Regions from separate parts of the Homo sapiens genome. Here regions 1 and 2 are each linked to region 3. Evidence: fine-mapped expression QTL. A gene starts in region 3. Each other region holds a variant in brackets. All regions are shown on one strand. Distances are from middle to middle.

Evidence for each region. PIP is the estimated chance that this variant, and not a neighbour inherited with it, causes the effect.
Region 1: its variant is fine-mapped to the expression of PDZRN3 in tibial artery (GTEx, PIP above 0.99). The same link has a PIP of 0.9 or more in aorta and gastroesophageal junction.
Region 2: its variant is fine-mapped to the expression of PDZRN3 in lung (TOPMed, PIP above 0.99). The same link has a PIP of 0.9 or more in visceral fat.

The regions. Positions count from the first base shown.
Region 1 is chr3:73,511,193-73,521,342 of GRCh38, reverse strand. All of the region lies in intron 3 of PDZRN3 (PDZ domain containing ring finger 3), which reads left to right. It overlaps LOC101927296 (a long non-coding RNA gene), which reads right to left and starts at 21. Exons shown (of 2, transcript NR_121660.1): 1 at 1-21. The variant GACTCCGTGTCCTGT/T (reference allele first, on the strand shown) is at 4,534.
Region 2 is chr3:73,809,286-73,819,435 of GRCh38, reverse strand. LINC02005 (long intergenic non-protein coding RNA 2005) reads right to left here. Exons shown (of 4, transcript NR_146637.1): 1 at 10,080-10,150; 2 at 9,326-9,374. Among named protein-coding and RNA genes, the nearest start is that of LINC02005, 5.1 kb to the right of the region's middle. The variant C/T (reference allele first, on the strand shown) is at 5,971.
Region 3 is chr3:73,619,562-73,629,711 of GRCh38, reverse strand. It overlaps PDZRN3 (PDZ domain containing ring finger 3), which reads left to right and starts at 4,771. Exons shown (of 10, transcript NM_015009.3): 1 at 4,771-5,609. The coding sequence starts at 4,887. PDZRN3-AS1 (PDZRN3 antisense RNA 1) reads right to left here and starts at 6,144. Exons shown (of 2, transcript NR_046681.1): 1 at 5,747-6,144; 2 at 1,813-4,300. RefSeq lists an enhancer at 6,838-7,352.

The DNA of each region.
Region 1 (10,150 bases), 110 kb after region 3:
GCTTTCCTCAGCTGATCTCAGCTCCTCAGAATGAGAGTTAATGGGGAATTGGAGGGCTGTGCACTGGCCCCAGTAAAGATGTCCAGAGCGTGAAGTCTTTCTGCAGGCTGAGCAGAGGAGGGGTGCTGACGGAGTGGCACGCACAACAACCCGTTTAACGAGTCCACCGGCAACCCAGTGCTCCTGAGGGAAAACATACATTGGCAGCACTTCCCCGTGCCTGTCTCCTCCTTTTTCTCTTGCTGACACGTCTCACTTGAATTAAATCCTGGGCTCTGCCATGCCAAGAGTCTTTGGTTGTATTCCTGCTGGCCTTTTCCAGCTGCCTAGCTTCCAAGCCATGTGCAACACATTCCTTCACTAGCTCCTGTTCTTAAATGTAGAGGTTCTCCGGGGCTCTGGCCTCAGCCCACTGATTTTCCAGTGTTTACACGCACCTTGAGTGATGTTATCCTTGCTTGTAGTTGTATTACCATCTGGGTGCTGATGGCTTTTGAATCAGTATTGCCAGTGAGACCTGCCCCCTAGCTTCAGGTTTCTTCCTCAAACTACCTCCCCAAGGGGCTCACCTCTTCCTTATCAACACCTGCTTGCCCCTGCTCCCCCTACCCCTGCTTTCATTTTTTTCTGTGTGTGTGTGCTTGTGTGTGTACAGACACGCATGTAATGTAGGACCTGGGAGTCTTTCATTGTCCTCCTTTTTCCTTTTCCCGCCCCTCTGCTAATTGAGACCCAAGTATCTGGAGGCCTTGATTCAGGGTTGGGCTGTAAAGACAACTTGGATTCTATTCAAAGAGTCTTTTACTTTAGTTCACTCTTGTTGTTGTTGTTGTCGTTGTCACAGGGTCTTGCTCTGTTGGCTGGGCGGGAACATGCAGTGGTGGGATCTCGGCTCACTGCAGCCTTAGCTTCCCGGGCTCAAGCGTTCCTCCTGCCTCAGCCTCCAAAGTTGCTGGGACCACAGGCACACGCCACCACACCCAGCTATTTTTTCATTTTTAATAGAGACAAGGCCTCACCATGTTGCCCAGGCTCCTCTTGAACTTCTGGGATCAAACAGCCCTCCCACCTCAGCCTCCCAAAAGTGCTGGTATTACAGGTGTGAGCCACCACACCTGGCCTAGTTTACTCTTGATATAGCTAATTAGCAGCCCCAAAGATATATAGGAGACAAAGCAGTTTGATATAGCTCTCTGTTACCTCTTTCTTCTCTAAGCAGAGTGCCAGGGGTGTCTTTCCATATGCAAACCTGATGATGTCATCTGCCTGCTTAAAACTCTTCTGTGTTCCCCCCTGCTTTAAGGGCTGACAGGTATGGATGGGATGCAGGTTTTGCAGTGCGCCACCCCCAAGGAACGCCATTCTCATCATAGTCTATGTGAATAACACCTCCTACAGCTGCAGGAGCATTGTACAGCCTGTACTGCTGTCTATGGCAGCTCTGGCCAGTAAGGTCTAGCAGTGCTTGGCCTTAGACTCCTGTCCCACCACATCACATATGACCCTCTCCCTGGTAGATAATCCCAAGGTTTCTGAGTCAGTAGTTCTGGGGTCAGGTATAAAAATCTGCCCTCCTATCACATTCCCGGGTGATGTGATGCTACTGTTCTGGGGAACACACTTTGAGAACCACTGGCATAGCCATAGCTTGACGTAACTTGATGTTTTTTCTGTTACGACTCTTTACTCACTTAGGGCTTCCAGGACATGCCTGGACATGGGCTGCCTAACCCAATTTTGCAAAAGCTGGGGGTATCTCCATTTTATAGAAACAATTAATGATCCCACTTACTCTTTTTAAATTAATATTGAACTCTCCATGAAGCCCATAAACACATTCCTTGTGGAAGAACTTGAAACAGTACAGATTAGTCTAAAGTTCCTTCTTTCTCTCATCTTTGCCCCAGAAGTTAACACTCTTGTCAGTTTGGTATATATCGCTTTTAGACTCTATTCTGAGTTTGCTGGTAGAAAATAGCCTTCGTGCTGGCATTTCCCCCTCCTCTTACCATGAATCACATCATACTGAACCTCCTGTTCCACAGCTTGCTGTTTTTCATTCAGCTGTATGCTCTGGCCTCCTCTTTACGCTGGCGTGTATAGATTTTGCTCAGTCTCCTTGCTCTTCACAGCCACTCTTTCCCACCCTACTTTCTGCCCAAGGGACTCCATCAGCCAGTGCTCCCTGGCTTCCAGGTGGGTGTGGCCAGTGGGAGGAGATCAGAGTGAAGTAGATAAGTGAGGTTGGGGTCTCTCCCTTCGAGGTGGTCTCATGAGGGCTGTGGCTGTGGAGGGAAGTTTCCTGAACTCACTGCACCTCTTCCAAGCACATTCTGCCCTCTGCACCCACTTTGCAATTAGACCTGATTCATCTTAAGTACGTCACTTGTCTCCTCAGGGAACCTCACTACATAGGTGCTATGGGCTGGATATTTGTGCTCCCACAACATTCATGGGTTGAAACCCCATCTTCACGGTGATGGTGTTAGGACGTGGGGATTGGGGGAGGTGATTAGGCCATGACACCTCTGCCTTCATGAATGGGATTAGTGATTATAAAGGAGGCCCCAGAGAATTGCATAGTCCTTTCCACCATGTGAAGACGGAAGGCAACATCTATGAACTGGGAAGCAGGCCCTCACTAGACACTAAATCTTCCAGTGCCTTGATCTTGGAGTTCTCAGCCTCTGGAACTATGAAAATAAATGTCTGTTGTTTATAAGCCACCCAGACTATGGTATTATGTTATAGCAGCCCAAGCAAACTGAGAAAGTAGGTATACCTCAGTCTTTTTTTTTAAGTTTTAAAAAAATTATTGTGGTAAAATATAAATAACATAAAATGTACCACCTTAACCATTTTTAAGTGTACAATTCAGTGGCATTAAGTGCATTCATGTTATTGTACAACCTTTACCATTATCCATCTCCTGAACTTTTTTATCATCTCAAACCAAAACTGTATCTGTTAAACGATAATTACCTATTTTTCCTTCCCCCAGCCCATGGCAACCACCATTCTCCTTCCTGCCTCTTGAATTTGACTACTCTAGATACCACATAGGTGGTATCATACAGGATTTGTCTTTTTATGACTGGCTAATTTCACTTAGTGTAAGGTCCTCAACATTCTTCCATGTCATAGCATGTATCAGAATTTCCTTTCTTTTTAAGGCTAAATAATATGGCATTGTATATCACATTTTGTTTATCCATTCATCCACTAAATGAACACTTGGGTTGCTTCTACCTTTTGGCTATTGTGAATAACACCACTATGAATGTGGGCATCCAAATATCTCTTCAAGACCCTGCTTTCCATTCTTTTGGGTATATACCCACAAGTGGAGTTGCTGAATCATATGGTAATTCTATTTTTAATTTTTTGAGGATGGCCATACTCTTTTCATCTCCAGTTATGTGTATTCTTTGCTTTGACCTGAAAGACATAACAGTTATAATTGCCCTATCTGTATGGTATCCCACATCAAAGAAACTTATTTTAGTCGTGCATGTGAGGTCAGCTGTTTTTGTCTTAACCATTTATAATTTTGATGCTGGAAAATATTTTGGTGCACAAAACATATTACCAAAGTATTATACATTACAGAAACTCTACATCGTCTTGCTTGTGAAATGTGAAGCCATTTTCAAAGCAGATGTGTAAATTACAGATATGGATTCAATTATATGGCATACTGAATATTTTGATTGCCATTGCTATAGATTCTACAAATATCCTGTAGTTTCCTCCCTGCCATTTTGAGAATATTCTCTTGTGTACATTTCATTCAGCCTTTTAAAGAATCTCTTAGCATCCTTTGGGGCCTAAGCCTCGCTGTGACGTTAACTTTGAGGGCTTTTGTTTACCTAGTATCTGTTCTTCTATAAGTAAATTTTAGGTGCCAAAGAGCTCTCGATAATTATGCAATGTTTTGTTGAGAGCTCTTTCACATAGAAACATGACCAGCATAGCTTTTTTCACATAGAAAGAAGACCTGTTTGGAAAATCCTTGGCAAACTAGGATTATAAATTTAAAAGAAACTGTGATTTGTTCTGAATTGTATTATAACTTGCCAAAAGTTAGTCACACATATAAATTATACAGGTTAACTAAGTTAGCCAAAGTCACAGGGCTAGGAAATGGAGGATCCAGAATTTAAATGTGGATCTTTCCACTGTATCACCTTTCTATCCTTCCACATGTGGCCACCTGTGATAGGGTAAACGCACACACACACCTCCTTTCAGATGTTTGGACTGTTTCAACATGCCCCAGATGGGAAGTGAAATAAGCACTTTGTATTCTCCCTTTCGTGATGGAATTTGGGTTACTGGGATTGAGGAGGGGCCACCAAAACTTCAGCATGGCTGTGATAACCGAGCACAGCAACTTGTCCTCATTTTCCATTGTGTGTAGTGTTTGCTTTGACCCGAAAGGCTCCTCATAGCCCATTCCATAGGCACATGAGCACAGCCAGCACCAGACCAAGACCATAAATGGATCTGTAGAAGGTTTGGGCAGGTGTCCAG[GACTCCGTGTCCTGT/T]AACAAGTGTAAACGTTTTCTGGAGTGTTTGTTTTAAATGTCAGAACTTGAGGATAATTTTGGCCAGGGTTGTTTTTACATTTTTCATGGATGCCTATTTATAGGTCTGAATCTAAATCTATTTTTTATCCAGCCTACCCAGAAACCATAAAGAAAAAGATTGGTCATTTGACTATATAAAAATTTAAAACTTATGTATGGCAAAAAACATAACAAACTAGCAAGAGGAGATGAAGGGCTAATTTTCTCCTTTCTTAACGTGTTTCTACATGTCAAGGAAAAAGACACACTACCCAATAGAAAAGCAAGATAAGAATATAATCAATAGACATGTGAAAAGGTACTCAACTTCATTCATAATTAAGAAAATACACAACCAAATGATGTTGGCAGAGATGTAACAGTTGGATAATAGGCAACATTGATGGGTGTGTTGACATAAGCACTCATAAACTGTTGGTGAGAGTTTACATTGGTGCAGCTTTTGGCAATATCTATTAAAATTAAAATGTTCATTCTGTCTGGCTTATAAATTCCATAATCTATACTGTGGATGTAATCACAAAAGAGTGTGCCAAGATATGTATGTATACAGGCACACATACATGCACACAAGAATGCTACTTGTAACATTATGCAATGGAAACCCACCACAACAATATATCCCTTCCTCCCAAATTAGAAACAAGATAAATGTTAAATAACAATACATCTATACGGCAGGAAGCCCTATTAAAAAGAATGAAGTAGAGCTCCAAACGCTCAGTTAGACAGATCTACAAACTTTGTGGCAAGCATTTATAGAAGTTATTTCTTAAAATGAGATCTCTATACTGGTATATGCTTTTATCTGAAAGGATACATTAAAAATGAGCAGTAGTTAAACTTTGGGGACTGTTGTTTTAGGTATGTGCATAGGCCTGGTTTGTCCTGCTTTTATTTTGTACTTTTTAAAAGGACTTTTCACCCATGCATTATTTACTTAAATTAAAATTTGATTGAAATCCATGTGAAAATGGTTCTAACAGTTATAGATAACTAAATTTAGCTTTAAGTCTTGATTTCCTCTCTGCAATATAATTGTCCAGAGCTATGCTTTTGGAAAGGAAAAAATGGAGCTGAGAGCTGATTTCCAGAGTATGATCTAGATATATCCTGGGCTCTGCTTTTCTGTGGAAATCGATCTTTAAAAAATATTGGGTGGAGTTAAATTTGAAATAGAGATTCTGTAACGGGTGGATGAGGTCATTTCCTTATAGGAACTTTTTGGAGTTGGGAGAGAAGCACATTTATTTCTAGGTGTTTAAGAAGGGCTGATTGGGCCGGGCGTGGTGGCTCACGCCTGTAATCCCAGCACTTTGGGAGGCCGAGGCAGGCAGATCACGAGGTCAGGAGATCGAGACCATCCTGGCTAACATGGTGAAACCCCATCTCTATTAAAAATACAAAAAAATTAGCTGGGCATGGTAGCGGGTGCCTGTAGTCCCAGCTACTTCGGAGGCTGAGGCAGGAGAATGGTGTAAACCTGGGAGGCGGAGCTTGCAGTGAGCCGAGATCGCGCCACTGCATTCCAGCCTGGGTGAGAGCAAGACTCCATCTCAAAAAAAAAAAAAAAAAAAAAAGGGCTGATTGTTGGTGGAAAAGGAGGCTCTCACCCAATTACCTAGTCAGAAAAGGACACCTAGGCTTTTGTGTCCTTGGAGTCCTTTGTTTCTATACCACCAATGAATCTGTAGGGGTAAAGTACTGGGGTGGAGTGGTTATTCATGTTAGAAAACAGTATAGGGGGATTTTGTTTTACAATCAGGTATGCTAGATTTAGATGTGGCTTCCATCGCTTTCTCACTTTGTAATCTAGCTGAGTTTGTTTACTCGTCTGTAAAATGGGTTTATAGATAATATCTCCGGTACAGAATTGTTAAGTGCTAAATGAGATTATGCAGGTGAAATGCTTGTCTTTGTACCGGGAACATAGCCTTTGTATCTGCCATTATTGTTGGACTACAACTGTACAATTTTAGCTCAAGATTGTGTTCATTTCTGCCAGGATGAAACCAGCAAGCTTAGTTCATTGCTTGGAATTCTGATAGTTAATTGGGTTATAGAACCAGCACTGGTCAACCAGGAAAGCCAAGTCAGAAGATCAGCCCTCAACCGTTGGCTAGGTGCCTGATGAGAAGTGCAAAATATAGAAGATTCAGACCAATTGGTTGAAATTTCTTACATCATATATACTGGAAATGTAGGAATTTAAGTATATTTGTGTATTCATGGCCCTTAAAGCCCAAATCAAGACCAGAAAAGTTGCCTAGATAAGATGTGAGTAAACCCTAAGTATCACTCTCCTTCCTCGACCCAGTCTTCCAGCCCAGCCCTTTTATCATTAACTTTTCTCAACCAAAATCTTGATAGAACTGTATTTTATTGTTACACACATGCACAGATTACACATTATAGTCCATTTGCGTAATTCATCCATCTGCCTCAGACCTGCCTTAACCCTGAAGAGTAGTTTAGGGTCATCTCACATGTTTAACAGCATCAATTCCAACTTGAACTAAGTAGAATAAACAGATCCCAGACCTCCTACCTTAGAGACCCAGCTTTTCAATCTTTTTTCTATCTTCCTTTCAACATGATCAAAGCAGCATTCCCTAATCCTGAAGACAACACAAGTACTTCTAAGTATCCTTTGTTTGTCTTGCTTATCCCAACCAAGGGTAATTTTACATTTGCATTACTAATCACCTTCCTAAAATGCATTGTTCCTAAAATTAGATTAAATGTCTCTAAATGGTTTTATTTTGTTTGACAGTGGCAGCCTGACCCTTAAATATCCTATCTGTGAATGTACCAACTAGAAGGACATAGAAACCTTGTATATAGAAACAAATAAGATTCTTCTATTTTGTCATCTCTGAAGTATAATTTCATCAATGCACTTAAATTTTGTGGGTGTCTCTTTTCGGGTGCAATAAAAATTCATCCAAGAACAACAAACTAAGCTATTACCAATTACCATTCAACTGTGGGTCAGAATATTTTAGTCTAGTGGGAGAGTAATATTTCTTTGGTTGGTTCAGTAAAGGTTCAAAAGTCTGAGAAAATTGAATGAGCTTTATGCTTAGGTCTTAGTTCTGGACCTCCATGTTAAATTCTTGGTTTGAGGCAGGGAAAGATGAAAACTTACTTGCAGTGTAGTTAGTGTAGAGAGAGAAAACAGTGGCTGTAGTTAGGAACAAGTGAATGTTAACAAGTTTGCTTCTCAGGGGCATTGGTTAAACAACTTCTTAACTGGCCAGGGTCCAGCACGTTAATCATTAACCTAGGGCTGAGCATCTGCTGCCTGATGTATCCAGAATTAGTTTATCATTACCTCTAACGACCATCTTTTATGGTTCCGAAGAGCCTCTATGCAGTCTCTTATCACCGCCATGCCTAATCTTCATTTACCGGGAGCAGTGTGCTGATGTTTCTTAGTTAGACCAGAGTAAGAAGTTTATGGTCAGTTGATGAATTTTTAATTATAACTGTTTAAAAAGAAGACGATGACTATGAACAGCAGCTCACTCGTAGCAATCTTTGGACAGTACTTCGAAGTGACCCACTTTCCCATTTAACTCTTGGGAAGCCTGGGTTGCCCTGTTTTCGACTTTGGAGGTCCGTGGGCTAGATTCAGAGTGCCCTGGCAGGCTGGCTTGGGTTTGAGGCTGTGGCTGCAGCCTCCGCAACACCCTATCTCAGCACCTGGGAACTGGCCCTTGGTACCCGATTCTTTCTTCTTTGTGTGTGTGTGTAAATCATTTTCATTTTTTCTAATGATCAAAGTATACATTAAAATAAATGAAAGCAATACAAGTCCATGTGTATGGTAGAAAATCTGGACAATACTAAAAATGTACAGAAATGGCTTTTAAAGATTAATTTTCAACCTATAAACTAAGCTACTTTTCATTTTAGTGTCTTTTTAAAAACAGCTTTTAAAAACATTTTAAAGGGCTCATCATGTTCAAGAATGAGGGAATGTTTGGCTACAAGGCCTTCAGTATGACTCTATCCTATAGCTGGAGGTTTAATAATCAATTATATTAAAGCTTTTCTAAGCCTCCAGAAGGGTTTGTCTGGGTCTTATTTACTATAACAGGCAAGTTAAAGAAACTTGAGTTTAATTTATATTTCAGTTCACTTTTTTTAGACAACAAGTGCAATTTGGGCTTTATTTATGGAAGGAGAGAGTTGTCCTTCTCCCCGGAAAAAAAAAAGAAAAAAAACAACTAAAATTCCCATATGACGCTATTAAATGCCTGCCATTGGGTTTTATGTTTCCAGGATATTGTCCACATAAATATATGCAATGTTAAAAGAATGTGGATGCCTAGTAGCGTGTACGTTTTAGCCTTCTGAACCAAGGGTTTATGAAACTGGTTGAAGAGTGTTTTATTGAAACAAGACAAATATTTATGAACAATTTAGAATCATCTGTTTTGAAATGTAAAGTGCGTTCCTAGTGGTGCACAGAGTTCCAGGTGTTTCCTGTCTGAATTTGGAACGGTTCGCTGCTGTGATGGGCTTACAAAGTTGTGCTCTCCTAGCTTTTAATCAGAACTGAAGAATCACGCAGCTTCCCTGCTAATGCCAGAGCAACTGAAAGCACTCACAGGAACACACTTGATTAAATGAGTAGAAAGCCTTCTTGAGACACCTAGGTGTGTGTATGCTGAGCTGTTACATTTGTCATGGAATTAACAACAATAACAAACTTGCTTACCAAAGGAGCGCGTTAACTTCTGCAAGTGTATAAGTGTATAGGCTCTGCTGCTTAAACACATTCGTACCAATCAGAAGTTTACTTTCTGGTCTCTCTGGCTTCTGTGTTGTCACCATCCCTGGTTTCTGTGAAATGGAAATATTGTGTATTCGCCCAGACGGTTGGAAGCCGTTCATGTAAATATGGGCCGTTGTGATTTAACTGTCAGCCTGAAAGGCCCTACTTCCAAGGGCTCCTTTTAAACCAAGCACAATGAGGTGTCTGTTTTAGATGCGGCCGCCAGTCCTTGGTTGCAAATACATGGATTTGTTAGCCGTTTGCCAGCAGAACTGCTTTTTACAACATGCCCCGCTTTGTCTGCTGGCGTGGTGGACGGTACTTTAGGGCAGTGAGAAATGCTGCCATTATCTGCCTCCATCCCCAGATCTGTTCCCCTCATTGGCTCCGGGTTGGGATTGTAGGGGGAGGCGTGCAGCAAATCATCTTCTCTAGGAGCAGTCAGAAAATAAGAAGGGAAAAGCTTGCCCCACAAAGAATGTCCAAATGCACAAGCAAAACCACATGTGAAATCCCACCACGTTCACCCCCTGGAAACCCAGCTCTAGAGGATGCAGACGGGGGGCCCAGCCGACACCCAGGGCTGGAGTAGAGGCGTTTTATAAAGGATGATCTTTTTTCTAGCATGGACAACAAAGGGCTAAGAGAGTCGTCCCGCTTCCTGCTTGGGCCTTTCTGTTTTTGGGTTGGCGGGAGCCTTCTTCAGTAGACTTCACTTTCCCTGATGGTGAGAGTGTCAGAGACCACGATGGGTTACAGGCTTGCTTAATTGTTTTTT
Region 2 (10,150 bases), 190 kb before region 3:
CAGCTTTTTAGATATAATATTACCATCCAGTAAAACTCATATGGCAGAAATGCCCTGTGCCCTGTCATTCCTTGGAGACAGCTCTAAAAAGGTCAAACGCCAGGCCTTGATAGGATGCCAATTCACTGATGGACATTACCAACTAATACTCCCCTTATCTAAAAATCCACATTATAGACAATTAAGCACTTCTATTTGCTTGACTGAGTTTTCCTTTCCCCTTAGTTCTTTTAAAATGACTTTGAACATCAGGATTTGCAAACCAGAGTTTTGTAGGACTAATACATGTTTAACGAGAGAAGTCAAGAATAATGTTTTAAAAAGATGTTTTTTTTACTTATCAGGCAGGTCAATATCAAAGAAAAGTCTCTTTGTGAACAATGACCTGGTGATTTTTCAAAAATGGAACAAGAAACTTTCATGTCACCATGAATTTAATACTGTCTCTTGTGTTTTCCTTTGCAATCTCTTTGATTGGATTATGTTCAAGGATACACGGGGCTCTTGTCTTTTGAGTGCATTTAAGAGTTCATTTTCCAGCTTTGACATTCAGCTCAGGAGTTTCAACAGCAATTAATCAGAACTATCCATATCAGAAACATTGTTAATCTTTACCAGACAGAAGTCGTTATGTTTGCAACTAAACTTCAATAGACTCTTTGGACATAGGATTTATTATTTTGCAAATGTTTTGAAAGGGAAGACATAGCTTTGAAGCAGAGTCGGAGAAACAGTTTTAAAGAGTTAGAACCAAAATCCAAGAGTCACTCAACCAGACCTGGAAGGAAACATTTGTTTCTGCTGCAGGTTATAAGAATAGTCACTTCAAGGTTGAACATCATCCAAGCGTGCATTAGGGTATATGGTTATTCATCCTCCAAATTTCAGTCCTCAACCCTTCTCTGCCCTCTCCCCTGCATGAGCTCATTTCTTCCTGATTTCAATTATCACCTCAGTGCCTCAGTGTAGATGATTCACAGATTCACTGGTTACCCAGCAGGTATTGAATTTTCACTGCAATAATACATGGCATCACAATAGTTTCCATTTGTTGAGTTCTCACTATTGTCAGATGCTGGGCTAACCCTCTCTGTGCACTGACAGGATTAAAGTAGGGTGGTTGGGATGGTGCATGGTCTGGAGGCCAACTGCCTGGGTTCAAATCCTAACACTGCCACTCGCAAATTTTCTTACTTTGGGAAAGGTATTCAGTTCTCTGGCTCTGCTTTCTTATCTCTAAAATGAATATGAAGAGTACCTACCCATAGGGTCTTGTTTGTTTTGTGCTTAGAATTAAATAAAAGATTCCACGTAAGATACCTTACTCATAGTAAATTTTCAAACATTGGTTATAATAATTGTTACTAATTATCACTCTTATTTTTTATACAATGACACAATATTCCTAAGATGAAGGCACTATTTTATCCAATTTAAAAATATGCCTGTCTTCTTAATCAGCATGATAAGGGCCTCTCTAAATTATGGCCCATGGGAATAACGCGTTGTTAGAAAAGATATCAGTCCTAGACTGCAATTTGCAAGAATATGCAAATAAGAGGATTGAGATAACCATAACAATCTCACAAAGTGCTATGAGAGCTCAAGATCCTAAATGTCTATCTGTAGCTTTGTTCCCCTAAGGTGCTCAGAGTCACAGAATGTCAGAGCTGAAAGCACAGTAAACACAAAAACATAGAACTGTAATCACAATAAAATGCTCCATTTAAAACAAATGGTATTCATCTCAGAGGGTCGAGGGATGTGATGAGAGTCACACAGTTAGCCACACAGGCAGAGCTGCAGACCCTGGCCTCTACTTACTATGTGGATGCCCCACCATCAACACTTTCCAACATGTCGAAATGTAAACGTATCATTAAACACATTCATTACCTATTTGCTACTGTTTGGAAAGTCCCATGTTTAGCAAAATGCTCTCTTTCTTACATACACCACATTGCAATTCACCAAAACTATCCACATTGGAAATATTTTTACAGAAGCAGCTATGTATGCAACTAAATTTTAATGGGGTTCATCATTTTGCCAATGCTTTGAAAAGTGAGGTGATATGGTTTTGCTGTGTCCCCACTCAAATCTCATCTTGAATTCCCACGTGTCATGGGAGGAACCTGGTGGGAAGTAGTTAAATTATGGGGGCAGGTCTTTCCTGTGCTGATCTCATGATAGTGAATGAGTCTCACAAGACCTGATGGTTTTAAAAATGGGAGTTGCCCTGCATAAGCTCTCTTGTCTGTCGCCACGTGAGATGTGCCTTTCACCTTCGCCAAGTGGAAATGTAAATCCAATGAACTTCTTTCTTTTGTAAATTGCCGAGTCTTGGGTATGTCTTTATCAGCGGCATGAAAACAGACTAATACAGGAGGCATGGCTTTGAAGCAAGGTGAGAGAAGTGCTGCTTTTTGAAGTGCTCAGTTAAAACAAAACACCAAATTGTTTGTTGAACTAGTCCTGGAATGAATCTTTTGTTACTGCTGCAAGATATGAGGAGCTCATCCCCTCATATCCTGTCCAGCAGGAAATTCTGTTGGCTGGTAACATGTCCAGAATCTGACTGCTTCTCACCTCTTCCAGTGCCACCACCCTGTTCCAAGCCATGAGCATCTCTTGCTTAGTGTACTGTGGGGCCTCCTACTTATAAAATCTGCCTTGACTTTTACACCTTAAAGTGTATACTTCACAAAGAATAGACTCCACAAAGTGATACTTTTAAAACAAAGTCAGATTATGTACTTGCCATATAGAAACCCCCAATGCCTTCCCATCAGACTCGGAGAAAAACTCAACTCCCTTCTGATGACCTAAGGTTCTACACTCTCTGCTCCCTACCCCTACCTTCCCTGACCTCATCTCCTACAGCTTGCCCCTCATTAATTCACTCTAGCTGCATGAACCCCCAACTACACACCCCCAGCCCCGCATTCCTTAAAACTTTAGAACCTTGCCCTAATTGTTCCTCTGCTTCTCCGACTGGAGCAATCTTCACTGAGATACCTGTGTGGCTCACTCTCTCACTTTCTTCAAGTCTTTGCTCAAGTCCCTCCTCAGTGAGACTTAGCTGGATCAGCATGTTCAATTATTGTATGGGGCCCGGAATGTGCACACATACACACCTGATTCCCATTAACTGCAGTTATGAATTTATATAGCATCTAAAGTAAACCAGGATGTGTTTTAGAGCTAAAGGGGATGCTGCTAATAGTTATGCTGGCACCACAGAAATAAACTAAGCCTGCCTTGGGCAAGCTGGGACATATATCCACCCACATATAGCATGCTCAATTTTTTTCCCTTGGCATTTATTGCCTTTTGACAAACTGTAATATTCACATATTTCTGATGTGTTTCAGTTATTGTCTGTCTCTCCCTCTTAAAGCATAAGCTCCAAGAGAGCAAGGACATCAGTTTCTTTCTTGATGTATTCTAAGTGTCTAAAATAGTGCCCAACAGCCCGGAACAGAGTAGATTCTCAATAATATTTTTCAAAGTAAATGAATAAATGATATAAGGAAGTCAAAGATTATCTCAAAAGTTCTTTCAAACTTTTAGCATCGGATGCATTTTTCAGTTCAATTCTATCAAAAATGGCGAAATGAACAAGATGAATATGCAAAACCAAAATTGGCATCAGAGCCATGAAATTCTAGATTCTTAATACTGGATCTGGAAGAGAAATGAATGGATGATCTGGCTCTATTTTCATTCCTTGAAGAAAGCAAATGTTTAAATCAGTATTCTCCAGTTATTTTCCTGCTGTCCATCTGTGTTAGTCCATTCTCACATTGCTAATAAAGACATACCTGAGACTGGGTAATTTATAAAGAAAAGAGATTTAATGGACTCACAGTTCCGCATGGCTGGGGAACCCTCACGATCATGGTGGAGGGCAAAGGAGGAACATAGGCACATCTTACATGGCAGCAAGCAAGAGAGCTTGTGCAGGGGGAACTCCTCTTTATAAAACCATCAGATCCCATGAGACTTATTCACAATCATAAGAACAGCACAGGAAAGACCCGCCTCCATTATTCAATTACCTGCCACTGGGTCCCTCCCATGACATGTGGGAATTATTGGAGCTACAATTCAACATGAGATTTGGGTAGGGACACAGCCAAACCATATCACCATCCTTGAATGTCTCTGACTTGCTCCTTTTCATGTTTAAAAAGCTCAGGTGGAAATTCTTTCCTAAAATTTCCCATTTTCTTCACTCCCTCAACCTAAGAAAAGTCATACTCACAAGACAATGTTACTGTTCTCTTATGATGTTATTTCTGTACCTCGTACATGTTCTACAAATGTATATGTCTCCTTACATACATTCTGCCCTGTCACTTTCCACAGTTTACTATTTATAACATCTTCCATGTCTTCCCTGTGCCTTCAGTGGACTCTAAGTTTCTTAGAAACAGGTGCTCTAACATTCAGTTTTGACTTCACAACAACTAGCACAGTACGTGGTACACAGTAAGCATCATACTTGTATTCATCAATCTGAATTGGACTTCATTTGATGACTATTAGATTGGATTCAATGGCAACTGCACTAACCAAACTACCCACTCAGACTTGGCTGTGTGACTGCTACATTCCAGTTTAACTCTTCAGACTTTACATCATTGTAATATCAAAGGCCCTTTCTAGCACAATATTTTCAATTACTTATCATTTCTTTCCCTACAACTGACCCCACCCCCAGCTATACACGATCTTTAAACACTTGTTGCCATATTAGAGAGGGCTACTGTTTTCCCTGTAATACTAAAAATAAGGAGTCTAAATTGGGTCCTTCTATTTATTAATGAATAAAACAATTATTAAAAATGAATTTGAAGCTATCAAATCTAATCTATCTTTACATGAAAACTCCTGCAGTTGTATTGTCAGTCATAATTTCCCACATGCGTAATGGAATACATACACACCCATGTATCTATCCCTAAAATATATGGAATAGATATTACCAAAACACATATTCTAATTCCTTAAGATTATTTTTTGACCCTCTAATATTTTGATGCCTGTTGGCCAAGTCCTTATTGACTGTGTTACTGAATAATTTGTCCATCTCTGCTCATATTCTCTGCTTCTGAGTGATTCATCATATTTCATCCTGAGATGCTTTTATCATATGTTTAGTACCACTCATCTCTGTTTCACCTTAATTATATTCAACGTCTACTGTATTCTTAGCTGGAAACCATCTCCTTTTCATCCCTCAAAGCCTACTTTAGATCTGACTCTCCCAACAATGAAATGCCCAGAAATACCTGAAATACAGCATATCATCTAGGCAAGACTATTCAGACTTGCCATTAGCTGTCAAGTTTCATGTATTTCGCCTTCTACAAATCCATCCCTGGAGCCTTCTGCCATGAAAGTATCCAATGTGAATAGGTGTTAATCTCCATCCTTTTAAAATCTCCCCCCATTTGCTCCATCAGAGAATATAAAATGTAGCATATTTTCCCCCAGACTTTCCCAGCATGTTTCCTTTGTTCAATCTAGAATCAAGCAATTTAAATGACAGGTACACTTGATTTAAAGTCTGCTAACTCCCCTCCCCACCAGTAATTCCAGATTCTATCTCCCTTAAATCATCATTCCAACGAGGAGTCGGGAGAAATAGACAAACATTACTGAAAATCACAAAGGCAAGTTTCTCACCAGGTTGTGTATATCATCAGATGATCTTGACAAAGTCCAAAAGCCACCAGGGGTATATTGGAAATAGTTGCAAGGGTCAAGCCCTCACAATTACCAGAAATTCAAGCTGCCTTATGTATGTGTGGAAAAGATGTGTAAACTACTGGCTCTCCAAAGCACCTTCAGGAAAACATCCTGTTCACTCAGATGATATCTGTATTTCAGCAAATGTCAGCAAGTCCACATACTTTGGCAGAACAAATGTTATTTTTCCTTTCATTACTGTCCTAAGAGGAA[C/T]TGTGCAATCCTATAGATTATCGCATGGAGCTCTCATTGGCATGTGGCCAAGGCTGAATACTCTTCTCCAGAGGAGGCAAATTGTGAATTAAATTCACCGCTGGCAAATTGCTTTTTGTGTTCGATTTAATTTCGTTTTCATGATTTTTCCTGAGGGCTCTTCCGGCCTTGCTCAACTAACTGGTTTAACAGATCAGTTTAAGTTCAGAAAAACCTCAGTATTTCCAAGATTTCAGAATGCCTTTTTATTGAATTCCTGATTAGGACAAGTGAGAATAACAAATGTTTTACAGGTGTTCAATTCTCTAACACAGATATTGTTTAGAAGAAGGGGGAAAATCACAATAAATTACACTGGGCATAATTTTACTCAAATTTGGGAGCTGGGGAGACAGGGGGAGGAAGAGGAAGGAAGAGAATGAGTGAGCAGCTTTTCACTTAAAGTGAAAGTTACATTATCTGGACGGTAACTTCTTTAAAAGTACATTGTGGGGTGGGGGGAGGGGGGAGGGATAGCATTAGGAGATATACCTAATGCTAAATGACGAGTTAGTGGGTGCAGCACACCAGCATGGCACATGTATACATATGTAACTAACCTGCACATTGTGCACATGTACCCTAAAACTTAAAGTATAATAATAATTTTAAAAAAGTACGTTGAACAGTCCATGAGTAGCAATAATAAGACAACAAAGAAAATGAAGGATACATGTTCAAAAGAAGAGACGTGGAGCCGTGACTCAAAATGTACAGAAACTTCTTTTCCATTCACACGAACCAGGCAGAACAGTTAGCTGTGAATAAACTCAAGATACCAGACTGGCTCCATTAATGAAACATTATCACTGGAATAATATAGTTCATAGATTTTAATGATAAACTTGGGGGATGTGTTAATTGCCATTAGATTCAGGTGCATAGAACACATACATGGAAATAAAAATTGAAGTAGTTGAAATGAGGCAGAAATGTATATCTTCTTTACATCAAAGAATTCTGGACATAGATAGTCCAATATGGAGGGAATAATTCCCTACTCACCAAGGACCCAAACTCTCCCTATCTTTACACTCTACAATACTATTATGTGTCTTCAATTCTTAACGTTGCTTCATGTTCCAAAATGGCTGCTGAAGCTACAGCCTTTATGTCTGCTTTCCGGGCAGGAACAAGAGGGAAAAACAAAAGGCAAACACCTCTTAGCTGAGTCAGCATTATTTGTAGAACCTTCCTAAAAGAAACACCCTACTAGCTATATACATGGAGAGTGGAAAATGTAGTATTTTAGCTAGACATCCTAGCCAAAATATTGGTGGGAATTACATCCTAACCAAAATGTTGGTTCAGGAATATGGCTATTGATTAGGCAGCTTCAGTCTCTGTCACACGAGTAAAGTAATATTTTTATGAAACCAGAGAGGAGACACTTTGAAGTCTGTTGGCCTCTTTCGATCATTGTCCTTATCTTACATAAATAGTTGCTTAATGCAAATGCTTATTTGGTTCTTTTTATTTTATGGCAAAACCATCCTATGAACAAGTAAAATGTCATGCAAGAGGACACATTGCTGGCTTCTCACAAAATGGTAGTGCTACCCTCAACATGTCACCGGGAAGCCTCATCAGACCAAAACTACCCATAATATATTGCCTAAAGCATCCATCATAAAAGTTATTGCTTCTGCATCAAGATGATGTGCTTTTAGGAAATCTCACTTACAGTGAGTATGTGTTAACCGTTATGCCATTCAGTTCCATTAATCCATTTCTCTGTATTAGTTTATCAAATTAAATATCGTCATGGAAAATATAGAGCAGGGCTCTGAAGGAATAGAAACAAGTTAGGTACATTTCCAAGAGGTAGGCGGGAGAGAAGTTGAAGGCAGGGTGTGAAAATGAGGGTGAATTTGGGAGAATCCACCTAGCAAGGCAGAGTATGTAATAAGAATTTCATTTCTGATTAAATGAATGAATGAAATAAAAATACATGCACAGAATAACTTCTCAATAAACCTTTCTGGTTGACTATCAGATAAATGCATGAAGAGATAGATTAATGTATGAATAAATCCTCAAAGGTGAATTTTATCAGTGATGATTCTTTTATTTCTTCATGCCACTATCCTTGCTGTATGTGTGCTCCCTATAGCCATCATTGGGAGTTGTTGATTATGCTAAATATTAGAGTAACAAATACAAAAAGGACACTCAGAACCATAGATCACATCCCAAGCTAAGCGCTGAAGCACCAATGAGGCTGGCCAGAGAAGTAACCATTGGGTTATTACTATCAGCTTTAACATGTAATTATTTCATCCAGCACTGAAACAGAGAGGCACTCAAAATATAGACACTCAGCATAAGACTAACAGACAAAGACTTTCTATGCACTTAACTATGCACTATATCATAACTTTGAGTAGGACTTCCTTTTCTGGTTTGGAGGCTGTGTGGTATAATAGTTAAACACATCAGTTATGGTTTCAGGAAAATTTGAATTCAAATGCTGCATCTCCACTTGTTTCACAGCATTGAGCAAGTTACTTAACTGTTTCACATCTAAGTTCCCCCATCTTTAAAATGGAAGGAATGCTATTGCCTACCTTGTAAGTAATTGTGAGGAGTAAATGAGGACTCAATGATATCAGCCACGGTTATTAGTCATTATGTGCTGGGATCATGAGGGACTGTATAAGCCAGAGTTCTTCTGAGAAACAGAACCATTAGGAGACATATATGAGAGAGAGACTTAGTTCAAGGAATTAGTTTATGCAACTGTGGGGGCTAACCAGTCTACATCCGTAGGGCAAGCTAGCAGGCTGGAAATTCAGTTGTGTTGGTGTTGCAGTCTTGAGTCTGTAGGCTGGCAACTCGGGCAGGGTTTGTATGTTGCAGTCTTGAGTCAGAATTGCTGCTTTCTTGGGAAATCTCAGTCTTTGCTCTGAAAGCTTTCAACTGATTGAATGAGGCCCACCCACATTGTGGACACAAATATGCTCTACTTAAAGTCAACTGATTTAAATGTTAATCACATCTAAAATATTTTCATAGCAACATGTAGACTGGCATTTGATGAAACAACTAGGTGCCATACCCTCACCAAGTTGACACATAAAATTATCACAGGGACACAATAAATATGCCCATCCACACCCGCATTCTTCACAGAGAAACAAGACATAAGAGTTGCAGATTGGAAAGTGCAACTCTAACCTGTATGACAGATAAAGACTAGGATGGAAGCTGTGGTTTGTATTTGCAGGATTCAATGGCTTCAGATACTCCCACCCGCCACCCTCTGGCAGGTAGGTTAACACAACCAACCCAGGCAGTGGTGCCACATAAGACTTACAGCACGGAGAAGCTGGGAAGAACTCACATTTCTGCTGATGAGTTCATATCTGAGAGGACAAAAAGGAGGAGCTAGTTTTTCTTCTGAAATTTTCCAACCAGATAAGTCCCTCCTCCTTGCTAGGGTAGAGACAGTGATGCCACAGGTGAAGCCCCCACTGTTTCTGTCAATTGCACCCTTTCACAGAAAGGAACTATCATGAGCCAAGAAGAAACATTTCCCTCAATATCCTCCTCTCCTCACTACCGCCATTGTTTTTATCACCAGCAGACCGTACTGTTTATATTTCTTGTTGGGACCCTCTAAGTCTTAGCCTCTGAAATTGAAACTCTGGAGGGTTCTGAGGCTTCCAAAACCTAAGGAAATTTTCCAAGACATATCCAGAGAAGTACAATCCTATATTCAACCAACAGCATATTTCCTCTATCCTAGAAATCACCCTTCTTCCCCATCCCCCAAAAACTTCAGTTGAGAACCAGCTAGAGTTTACAGCACCAGGTTTAGTGTGGATCTCTTGACACCTCTGAAACAAGTTCCCCATCACATGGGAAAACTGCTCTGTCCTTCCACACCAGTCCTGGGAGCCTCTTCCAGCTTGATGCTGAAGAAGCCTGACATCCCCCAGGTAGGGGACAGCCGAGATCTCTTGGGCTCTGTTGGGGCCCGCTTAACTGTCCTTTTAAAGCACGCACCTTTCCCTCATCTGTAAAGAAGTCTGAGGGCAGAAACCAGATGTGCTGACCTCACCTCTCACCTCTCTCCCCCTGGCCTGGAATCCAGGGTTGTTCACTTCCTATTCACAAGAAGCAGCTTGCCTGGGCAAGA
Region 3 (10,150 bases):
GGGGGACAGAACGTGAACACGATTGCCCTACTCTATAATAGAGTGTAATATGTGGCATGGACACTAGACATTGATCAAGCTGTGCTCCTCTGCTGCCCAAAATACTTCAGTGCCAATCAGCACTAGAATCAATTCAATCTCTTTCCTCCACAGGTCCTGCAGGCCCGTGTCCATTTGGTTCTCGCCTACTTTTTACCCTTGTTTGATTCTTCTTCGCTCGGCTTACTCTGCTCCAAGTTCTAGGCACACTCTGTCTAATTCAAATAGACCATGTGCTTGCTTCGAACCTCAGCACTTTCTCTTGTTCTGCCTGGATTGTTCTTCTCCCAGCTATTGCTGGCTCAGTCTCACCCTTCAAGCGACAACTCACACTTCCCCTCCCCAGACAGCCCTATTTCAAATGGGCCCCTTTGATTTTTCTCCAGCATGTAAGCTGCTTTTATGGTGTTGACAGCAGTGATTCTCAAACTTTAAGTGCACACAAATCACTTGGTGATCTTGCTAAAAGGCAGATTCTGATTCAGTAGGTCCAAGGTGCGGCCTGAGATTCTGCACTTTCAACATGCTTCCAGGTTATGCCCATGTTTCTGGTCCCCAGACCACACTTTGAGCAGCACTGTATTAGGGAACTTATCATATTCCATAATCATCTCATTTATTATTCATTTATTGATATCTGCTGTTCCTTATCGTGAAATGAAGGCTTAAGAGGGGAGGGACACTGCTTATTATTTTTGGTAGCCTTTGTAGCCCCAGTGCAAGAACAGCCTCTTCTTTGCATATAATAGCTACTAAATAATTATTAGATAAATTAAGACATTTCAAGTGTGATCATTGTTATACAAGGGTATGTGCTTGGGGCTGTGGAAACTAATCCCATCTGGAGAGTTGGGAAAGGAGAGCCAGACTTTTGCAGACCAGAATTTGCTCAAATTTGTAAGAAGTATTTTCGCAATTCTTGTTCTTCTGCCTAGTGTCCCTACTGTGATAACTCATCCTGACTTACCAAAGTCTTCAAAAGTCTCCAGAATAGAGAACTACCTTCTCTTCTCCCTACCTTTCAACCCATGGCCAAACGAATGTGTCAGGCTCCAGGATGGCTAACATTGGCTATGTTAACAGGCAAGCAGTCTGACCGAAATGTTTCACACTTGTTTTTGTGGATGACTGCTGTACCTTATTACGCTCTGGTGGTACTTTCATTTGGTAAAAGCAGATCCTTATCTAATTGTATAGTGCTATTTTAGCTAGTAGAATACAAATATGTACGCCTGGGGAAGAAAATTTAAAAAACAAATGTAAAAACCCTTGACTTTCTTTTTGTTTGTTTTTTCTAGTACTGAAGCCACAAATTATCCAGACCCTACGAGCAGCTGAGGATTGATAACCAGCAAACATGGAGGGGTGGAGTTCTTATCCATATCATTTGTAAGGGAGTGCCTCCTGAGCTGGAGCTTATGGAGGAGACGCATAATGCTTATGGTGATTAAGAGTGAGGGTTCTGAAATTCTCCTGTTGACATCCCTGACTGGAGGCATACCTTATGTAACCTTATAAGGTACCTACGCCTACTTAGATATCTTATGTAACCTCTATAAACCTCAGTCTCTCCATCTGTAAAACAGGGTGGACAACATATCTACCTCTCTATGTGCAGTGAGGATTAATGAGACAATGAAGGTCAAGTGCTGAGCACAGTGCCTGATACCTAGTAACAGTTCCCAAAAAAGTGGTAGATATTATTATCAACTTCTGATTAAACATGCTGATGGAAAGAACACTAAAAACAGAGTTTAAAATCAGAATGGGATCGTGGTGAATATAGAAATAGTATTTTTATTAGGCTTGGGGCCACATTTTGGTTAGAAAGTGCAGAATCAGATGATAAAAGGAAGGGGTAAGAGCAAGAGGTAGTGGAAGTCGCAAAAATAATTTGCAAAGTGACCAATCCAGCTGTCCACAAGGAATTCATCCATATATAAACACTCAGATGTTTCTGGGACGGTTGAGTAAGTATCTAATCCATGTCAGAAAAATCAGCTACTTTTCTCAGGAGGCCTGCCACACCAAACATTCATCTTCCTACAGTTTTTATTCATGTTTATTGGTATGGTGCCTTGAGTTTTCGATTTATAATAACATCCCTCTCTCACTGTGCAGCATTCACCAGGTGGTTCCACAGCCAGCAGAAAATGTGGGCTGACAGCATTGCCTGACTTCAGTAATGAGCAGAAAGCTTCCTTAAAACTGTGGTTCTCAACCTGGTTGTCACAACAAGGGGTTGTTACTATGTCTATTGGATAGTGGCCAGAGATGCTCCTAAATATCCTGCAATGCAGACGATAACCAACCCCCCACCCCCACACACACCACAACAAATAATTATTTGAATGAAAATGTCAGTAGTACCAAGGTTGAGTAACTCTGCCCTCAACTCCTTTTTCCTAATATTTTTGGCTCTCGTTTCTCCTGTTAAGTTTGGTGACTGAAATAATAGTCTTGCCAGCTCTGACATTGTAGGATTTTTTTTCTAACCTCCAAGAATTTTGATACTAAAATTAACCATTGAGGAGTGGCACAGACTTTCCTTTTGCCTAAAGAGGCCAATCCACAGTAGGCTATGGCTTCTCTGTGGCCTCAGCTGTAGCATTTCAGCAACAACCTCTCAATCTGCCATCTGGGAGACCACCCGAGGGGTGGTAGAACATCTCCAAAAAAGTGTACACCCCAAGTAAGCACTAATTTACATTTATGGTGTAGGACAGAACTTCTCTGTTTCTCAAAACCAGTTTGGTTTGAAGATTATCACCCTGTTGACACTAGCTCATTCTGTGAAACTGACAAGCCCACACACCTTTGGTGAAAGAATTTGTTTCCTACCCATTATCTGAGAGCCCATGAGCAGTTTAATGAATATACTGATGGAGGATTCCCTGGCACAAGCTTATCTGAACAAAGGCCAATAATATTCCACCCCATGCAGAATCCTATCAAAGCAATGCATTAATTGATTAAAGCAATTAAAAGAAAGTCTCCACCTCAAATAGGCAACAAATGCCACCAAAACTGATTAAAGAACACTGTCCAGTGACCTCAACCATGCACTGAAAAATCTAGTGAGTGACAACTTTTTAAAGGTCAGTGTGAAACAAGTAATCCTTATGAACATCAAGGCAATTCTTTCACTCTGATGAAGCAGTTAAATAGTGAAGGTCATGGGGCTTTAGCAGCCACATAAAAGAAAGAAGGAAAGCAATTAGACAAAATGGATGCTGTAATCCCACTTTCCAGGCCCCAGAGTCTCGCTGAATACAGAGCTCCTGCTTTACTGTTCAGAACTCTCCCGCTTCACTGTTCAGAAACTGGAAGCAGATTCCAAATGAGAATTCCATAGCTTGATTCCACTCTCACCAAAAGCTGACTGCGTGTTTCTTAGGAATGTCTATAGCCTTGGGAGGTAAAAATAAAATAAAATAAAATCAATGGATGATGCTATGAACTTTACACCCAGTTTGGAATTCCAAAAATATTCCTCCATTGCTCAGGACTGTTGCTGAATCCTACCCAGCCAGGTTTGCTGTACTGCAGGGAATGAATGTCCAGATCTATGGATCGCCAGGGTTTTCCAATCAAGTGGGAATCCAAGGACCAGCATGGACTAGCAGCATTGGCATCACTTGGAAGTGCTTTCAGTATGGAGATTCTCAGAACCCGCCCCAGACCCACTGTATCAGAACCGCAACCACATTAAAATGTGAGAAACACTGACCTACAGGACCCTACAGGGCACTTTTGTTTTGTTTTGTTTTCTGTTTTGTTTTTATCCTTCTTCTAGCCTGAGTTTCCTCAATGGAAAGATGACAGAGTGTACACACAAAACAAACCAAAACTGAAGGAGGGCAGTTGTTGACATGATCATGGGGGTGATGAGTCTTCTCCCAGTTCTAACTTCTGCAGTCAGCATCGCTTCTTTTGTAATCACGGGAAAATAATTTTCAAATGGAGCTAACCCTCTCACAACATTGTACTAATGATCTTTAAAGCGACGGATTTAGAAGCGCTCAGCACCACGCTTGCCACACTGCAGGGCAGACACTTCAGAGGTGTTAGGTGAAGTGGATGGAGCCAGCACGCTGGCCTCTCCCACTCCGACAGCTGGCGAGCAGCTCTTGTCCACCAAAACTTCCCCGGGTAGATTCACCCACCGGTCCTGGAAACCTGCTAAATCCTGAAGGTTCACAGAACCTCTGGTCAGAACTGAAGTTGCAGCCGGAGCTTCCCGCAGGCTCTGTAACTTTCCCTGGAATGAAATAAATAAATAAAGACCGTAAGTGCTGAGATAGCGGGCCCCAAGATATTTTTAGTCCTCTGCAATCAGCCACTAGAGGAAGGGGGAGGGAGAAGGGAGTAAAAAAGTTTTGATCCGTTCGGGAAGGGGCTCGAAGAGAACCCTTGGGAGAAAGCAGTAGCCTCAGCTCCAAACTCAGCGAGCTTTTCTCGGCTGGCGTTTTGTCTCCTATAGCGTAGACTGTAAGAGAACAGAAAGGAGTTTCCCGAGAAGATTCAGGCTGGCGTCCTGGGCTGGCCCGTCCCTTCTGGCGAGCCTCAGTGTCCTCCCACGCGCTTCTGCCTTCCAGCCTCCTCCCTTTTTCGGGGGGCTGGCGGGAGGCATCCAAGGCACGATGTATGTGCGCTCGCGCTCGCGCAAATACGGCCGGAGGAGTCCTGTTCCTCGGGCATTTTCCGAGGAAGTCTGGATCAATTAGGCTCAGTCCGGGGAGAGCCAGCGAGCGCGCGGGCGGCGTAGCCGGCCTGTCTGGGCCGCCTCGTGGGGAGGGAGGGGGCGCCCGGCCGCCCGGCGGCGACCCCGGGGCCTGGCCGCCACCATGGGCTTCGAGCTGGACCGCTTCGACGGCGACGTGGACCCGGACCTGAAGTGCGCGCTGTGCCACAAGGTCCTGGAGGACCCGCTGACCACGCCGTGCGGCCACGTCTTCTGCGCCGGCTGCGTGCTGCCCTGGGTGGTGCAGGAGGGCAGCTGCCCGGCGCGCTGCCGCGGTCGCCTGTCGGCCAAAGAGCTCAACCACGTCCTGCCGCTCAAGCGCCTTATCCTCAAGCTGGACATCAAGTGCGCGTACGCGACGCGCGGCTGCGGCCGGGTGGTCAAGCTGCAGCAGCTGCCGGAGCACCTCGAGCGCTGCGACTTCGCGCCCGCGCGCTGTCGCCACGCGGGTTGCGGCCAGGTGCTGCTGCGGCGCGACGTGGAGGCGCACATGCGCGACGCCTGCGACGCGCGGCCAGTGGGCCGCTGCCAGGAGGGCTGCGGGCTACCCTTGACGCACGGCGAGCAGCGCGCGGGCGGCCACTGCTGCGCGCGAGCGCTGCGGGCGCACAACGGCGCGCTCCAGGCCCGCCTGGGCGCGCTGCACAAGGCGCTCAAGAAGGAGGCGCTGCGCGCTGGGAAGCGCGAGAAGTCGCTGGTGGCCCAGCTGGCCGCGGCGCAGCTTGAGCTGCAGATGACCGCGCTGCGCTACCAGAAGAAATTCACCGAATACAGCGCGCGCCTCGACTCGCTCAGCCGCTGCGTGGCCGCGCCGCCCGGCGGCAAGGTAGGCGCCTGCTGCCCGCCCCGACCTCCAGCCAGGATCCCTGGGGACCCAGGGCCCCGCCCCATCCCTTTGGGTACAGGGATGCCCCGAGCTTCCCGGGAACATCCTTGCTTCCTCCCTCTTCTTCCACTGCTTACCAGCTGTATCACTACTTGCAGGTCGCTGAACCTGCCTGAGGTGGAACACTGTGGTCCTTTATAGTCTAGACGTAACCGGTAAAGTATAGCTGTACAGCTTCAGGGATTCTGGAAGGACGAAAAAGAATTCACAAGCAAGTGTAGGATAAGAATGAAGAATGCAGCTCCAGAGTCAAAACTGCGTTCAAAGGCTTTGCTGCTCAGACCAGCTAGGGGATCTCGGGCAAGTTGCTTACCCTCTAGAGGTCAGAAACCTATAGACTGACACTTAGGAGAGGAGAGATGGACACATTGGGTGAATTGTATCCGTGCATCCTCTAGGATTCCAGAAAAAAAAATAAAGGGAACCCACAGCCAGTGTAGATTAAGTTAAGAAGGATATCAGAAGAGAGGCCTCTGGGGTAAAAGCTGGATGCAAGCGTGGGCTTTGCAGCCAACTAGCTGGCTGACCTTGAGCAAGCTGCTTAACCTCTCTAAAGTTGGAAACTATGGTCCCTAGAGACGTGGTATACAGAGTAAAAACACAGCCAGGCACCCCTGAGGTATTCATCCAGGGATTTCAGAAAGAATTAAAGGAGCACTCTGCCCCCAACAAGTATAAAGTAATAATTAAGTGTGAGTCCTCTGGAGTTAAAACTGTTTTCAAATCTGGGCTTTTTGCTGACCAGCTGGGTGAGCTTCTGGCTTAATTCCCAGATCCCTCAGTTTCCCTCAGTGCGAAAGGTTTTTGTCAGGCTTCAGGGAGAGAGTTTAGTAGAAGGGCCTCGTACTGTGCCTGGCAGAGAGTAAATAAATGCTCAACAAGTGTTACCTAGAATTATTTTTAACATCTCCACCTGAGCGGTCCCCTTGAGCGAGGGTTTACTTTGCTCCAGGCTGGGTGCTGCATTCTTCCCAGTCATTTCCTTTTTAATCAAGTGAGGTTGGTGTGACCCTTCCCACTTAGTAGATGAAAAAACTGAGGCTCATTAAGGGGCAGTTTCATGCCTGGGTCACAGCTTTTGGGTGCAAAGCTGCATGTTGAACCTTTGCGTGCCCATCTTTCCAGCCCACGTTCTATAAACTATCATGTTGCTCCTCAGTGCAACCACAAGGACCATTTATTGAGTGTTTATTAAGTGCCACCAACAATAGGAAGTACTTTACATGCATTACCTATGTTGTCCTTTGAGATGAGGGAACAGACTCAGAGAAGTTATATAACTTGTCCAAAATTAAGTAGTGACTCAGGGAGCAGAGCCGGACTCAGATTCTACCTCAGAGTTCTCAGTTTTGGGGCATATTGGCATTTTGGGCCCCATAACTCTTAGTTGGGAGGGGAGGTACTGTGCTGTGCATTGTAGGATGTTTAGCAGCATTCTTGGCCTCCCTCCCAAGTCGTGACAATCCAAATATTGTCAAGTGTCCTCTGGAGGGGCAAAGTCGCCCAGGTTGAGAACCACTGGTTTCCCTGATTGCAGAAGCCACATTTTCAACAGCTGGGTACTTCTGCCTTCCTGGGGAGGGGCCTGGGCCTGCTGCCACCGCTCTGGTTGCCTGCTCCAGATGGTGTGGCAGAAAGGGGAAAATATTTGCCCGAGGCTCCCCCAAGGGCCTGTGTCTGCTTTGCCTCTCTCTGCCCTCTCCCAGCCCCCTTTCCTTACGTGCACACCAGGCCTGCAAGTTTTCCGACCTGGCCCCCCTTCCTGGCCCCTGGCCTGTCTGTCAGCTGCAGTCTCAGCAGCTGGCCAGCTCTGGGCGAAGGGCAAATATTTACAGCTCCACAGCTTGCCCAGGACCTCACAGGCACACAAAAGACTGGTGTGAGCCTTCGAATCACCAAAACAGAGGGCAAAGCTTGGTCTTCAATCAGGCGCCAGATTTAGGGTGAAGGAGTTCCCGAGTTTCTGCTGTTTATGCTGTCATCTGGACTTCCTTCGTCGTTTTAAGTGACGCTTATTTATAAATAAGCCATTCACTGCCCCAGAGTTTATGCATCATTTATTGTTGAGCTAGTTTATTATTTCTTCTTAACTTTCTGTTTTCTTTCTGGAGTGTTTGGGTAAAATCTCCCTCAGAGTCAAAAATATGATACTTGAATCAAAACTGTGGATGTTTTTGAGGCTCTGTTGAGTTAGTGGGTAGCATAAAGAAGGATGTTAAGCTTAGAGACAAGATGTTGATTTTGAACTTACGGAGAAAGGTTTGTTCCGGTGTTGGAGCCCTGCTTGGAACTTTTACCAACCTCAGTGCCAGCCTTGAGAACAGCAAAGGATGGTCTGGCCCAGAAGCTGCCCTAGATAGTTTCCCTGGCCTCAGACCCAGCCTGGCCTCAGCTGAGGCCTTAGGGAAGCTTGCTGTCTCTCCTTGCCCCGAAATTAACCCTCAGTGGCCCTTACTGAACGCTTTTGCTGTTCCTGGGTCAACCATAAAACTCCTCCCATTGGAAGCTGTTTAAGAACTTGTTTATTTCATTGGGCCGGCTCTCTGCTCCTGCTGGGTACTGTTTATTCTCTTCTAAAAGGCAGAAGGATTTATATGTCCTGGAAACTCTCATGTGCAACATTTTTATTTTCTTTTTAAAATAAGCCCTAATGTTTGCTTCTCTGTTATAAGCTGAAGGAGATTAGAAACACTCAGATTTTCAGTACCAGCTCTTCAGCAGCCTAGAACTTGCACAAATGATGTGGCATTCTTTAAATTATCTTAGGTTTCAGTTTTTTTGACACCTGCTGAACGCTTAGGGTTTGTTAGTGCTGTACCAGCATAGACGTTGTCTCTTCTGTTCTACCATGTGAGCTATATTAAGGATTCTCAAGCCTTAGCGTGATTGGAGTCACTGGAGAGCTTAACACAGATTCCTCAGTCTCACCCCTAGAGATTCTGATCCATTAGGGCTGGCCAGGGGCCTGATATTCTGCATTTCCAATGAGCTCCCAGATGATGCTGGTCCTTTAAGTAGCCGCTAAGCTAGACGAAGAGCTTACGCTCAGGTAGATATAGACCAAACATGTATTGGTCTTCACACAGTTATGGTTTCACTGGTCATTGTCTAAACACCTTCCTAAATTTCTTAAGACCAGGATAAAATTTTAAAACCCAGACTGCCTAGGCCGGGCTCAGTGGCTCACGCCTGTAATCCCAGCACTTTGGGAGGCCGAGGCAGGCGGATCACGAGATCAGGAGATCGAGACCATCCTGGCTAACACGGTGAAACCCCGTCTCTACTAAAAATACAAAAAATTAGCTGGGCGCGGTGGCGGGCACCTGTAGTCCCAGCTACTCGGGAGGCTGAGGCAGGAGAATGGCGTGAACCTGGGAAGCGGAGCTTGCAGTAAGCGGAGATAGTGCCACTGCACTCCGGCCTGGGTGAAAGAGCAAGACTCCGTCTCAAAAAAAAAAAAACAAAAAAAACCCAGACTGCCTAGCAGTTAAATGACAGGTAATCATAGCCTAGACAGGCATCTCTGATCTCACTGAGGCCACATCTGAGCTGCAGCAGACTTGGGATTGCTACACTTGAGTGAGTTAAAGAGTTCTGCTCCCAGCCTCAGTTTCCCATCCTGACTTACCCCCTGATTCTTAGAGCAAAAGCACTCCAGAGCAAACATCTTTTTTGCTTTTCTTTCTGGGAAAGGAACAATTCTGGACATAACTTTCCTTGGATTGATTGAAAAACTTGAGATACATCCTCGATACCTTTTGTTCTTTAACCTCCCATCCGGTCTGTCTTTGAATCCTGCGGATTTTACCTCCTAAATACATTTTGAATCTATTCACAGCTCTCCAGCTCACTCAAATGACCACCGTGGTCCAAACCAGAGTTTCTGAATCAGCACTGCCAACATTTTGGAATGGATAATTCTTGGGTGTGGGTGTGTTGTTGGTGGTGGTGGTAGTGGTGATGGGGGTGGGAGGCTGACCTGTGCATTGTAGGATGTTTAGCAACATCCCGGGCATCTACCTACCTACCTACTAGAGGCTAGTAGCGCTTTCCAAGTAGTATCAACAGTATTTGTGGACATTGCCAAACGTCCCTTGAGGGGCAAAATTGGCCTTTGTCTCAGACACTCTTGCCTGGACCATAACTCTTTCCTCTACAAATCTTCTTGCTCCTCTTCAATTCCTTCTTTACCTAGCATCAGGAATTAATCTCTTATAAATGTGTATCTTTTATCACTCTCCCTCAAGCCTCCTATGCTGTCCCATTTCTCTTGGTTGGCTATAAGGTCCAACATGCTCTGGATCCTACCGGCTTCCACCTGCCTGGATTCTTCTCCCCTTCATCCTCTTCTTTCAGCTTCTCATGTCTCTGAGAGTCGATGCATGTGCCCCTGAGCTCCTCTCTGCCTCCAGGCCTTTGCACTTGCTCTTCTGTCTACCTGGAACAATCTTACCAAGTACTCTGCACTAAATAACCTGCAA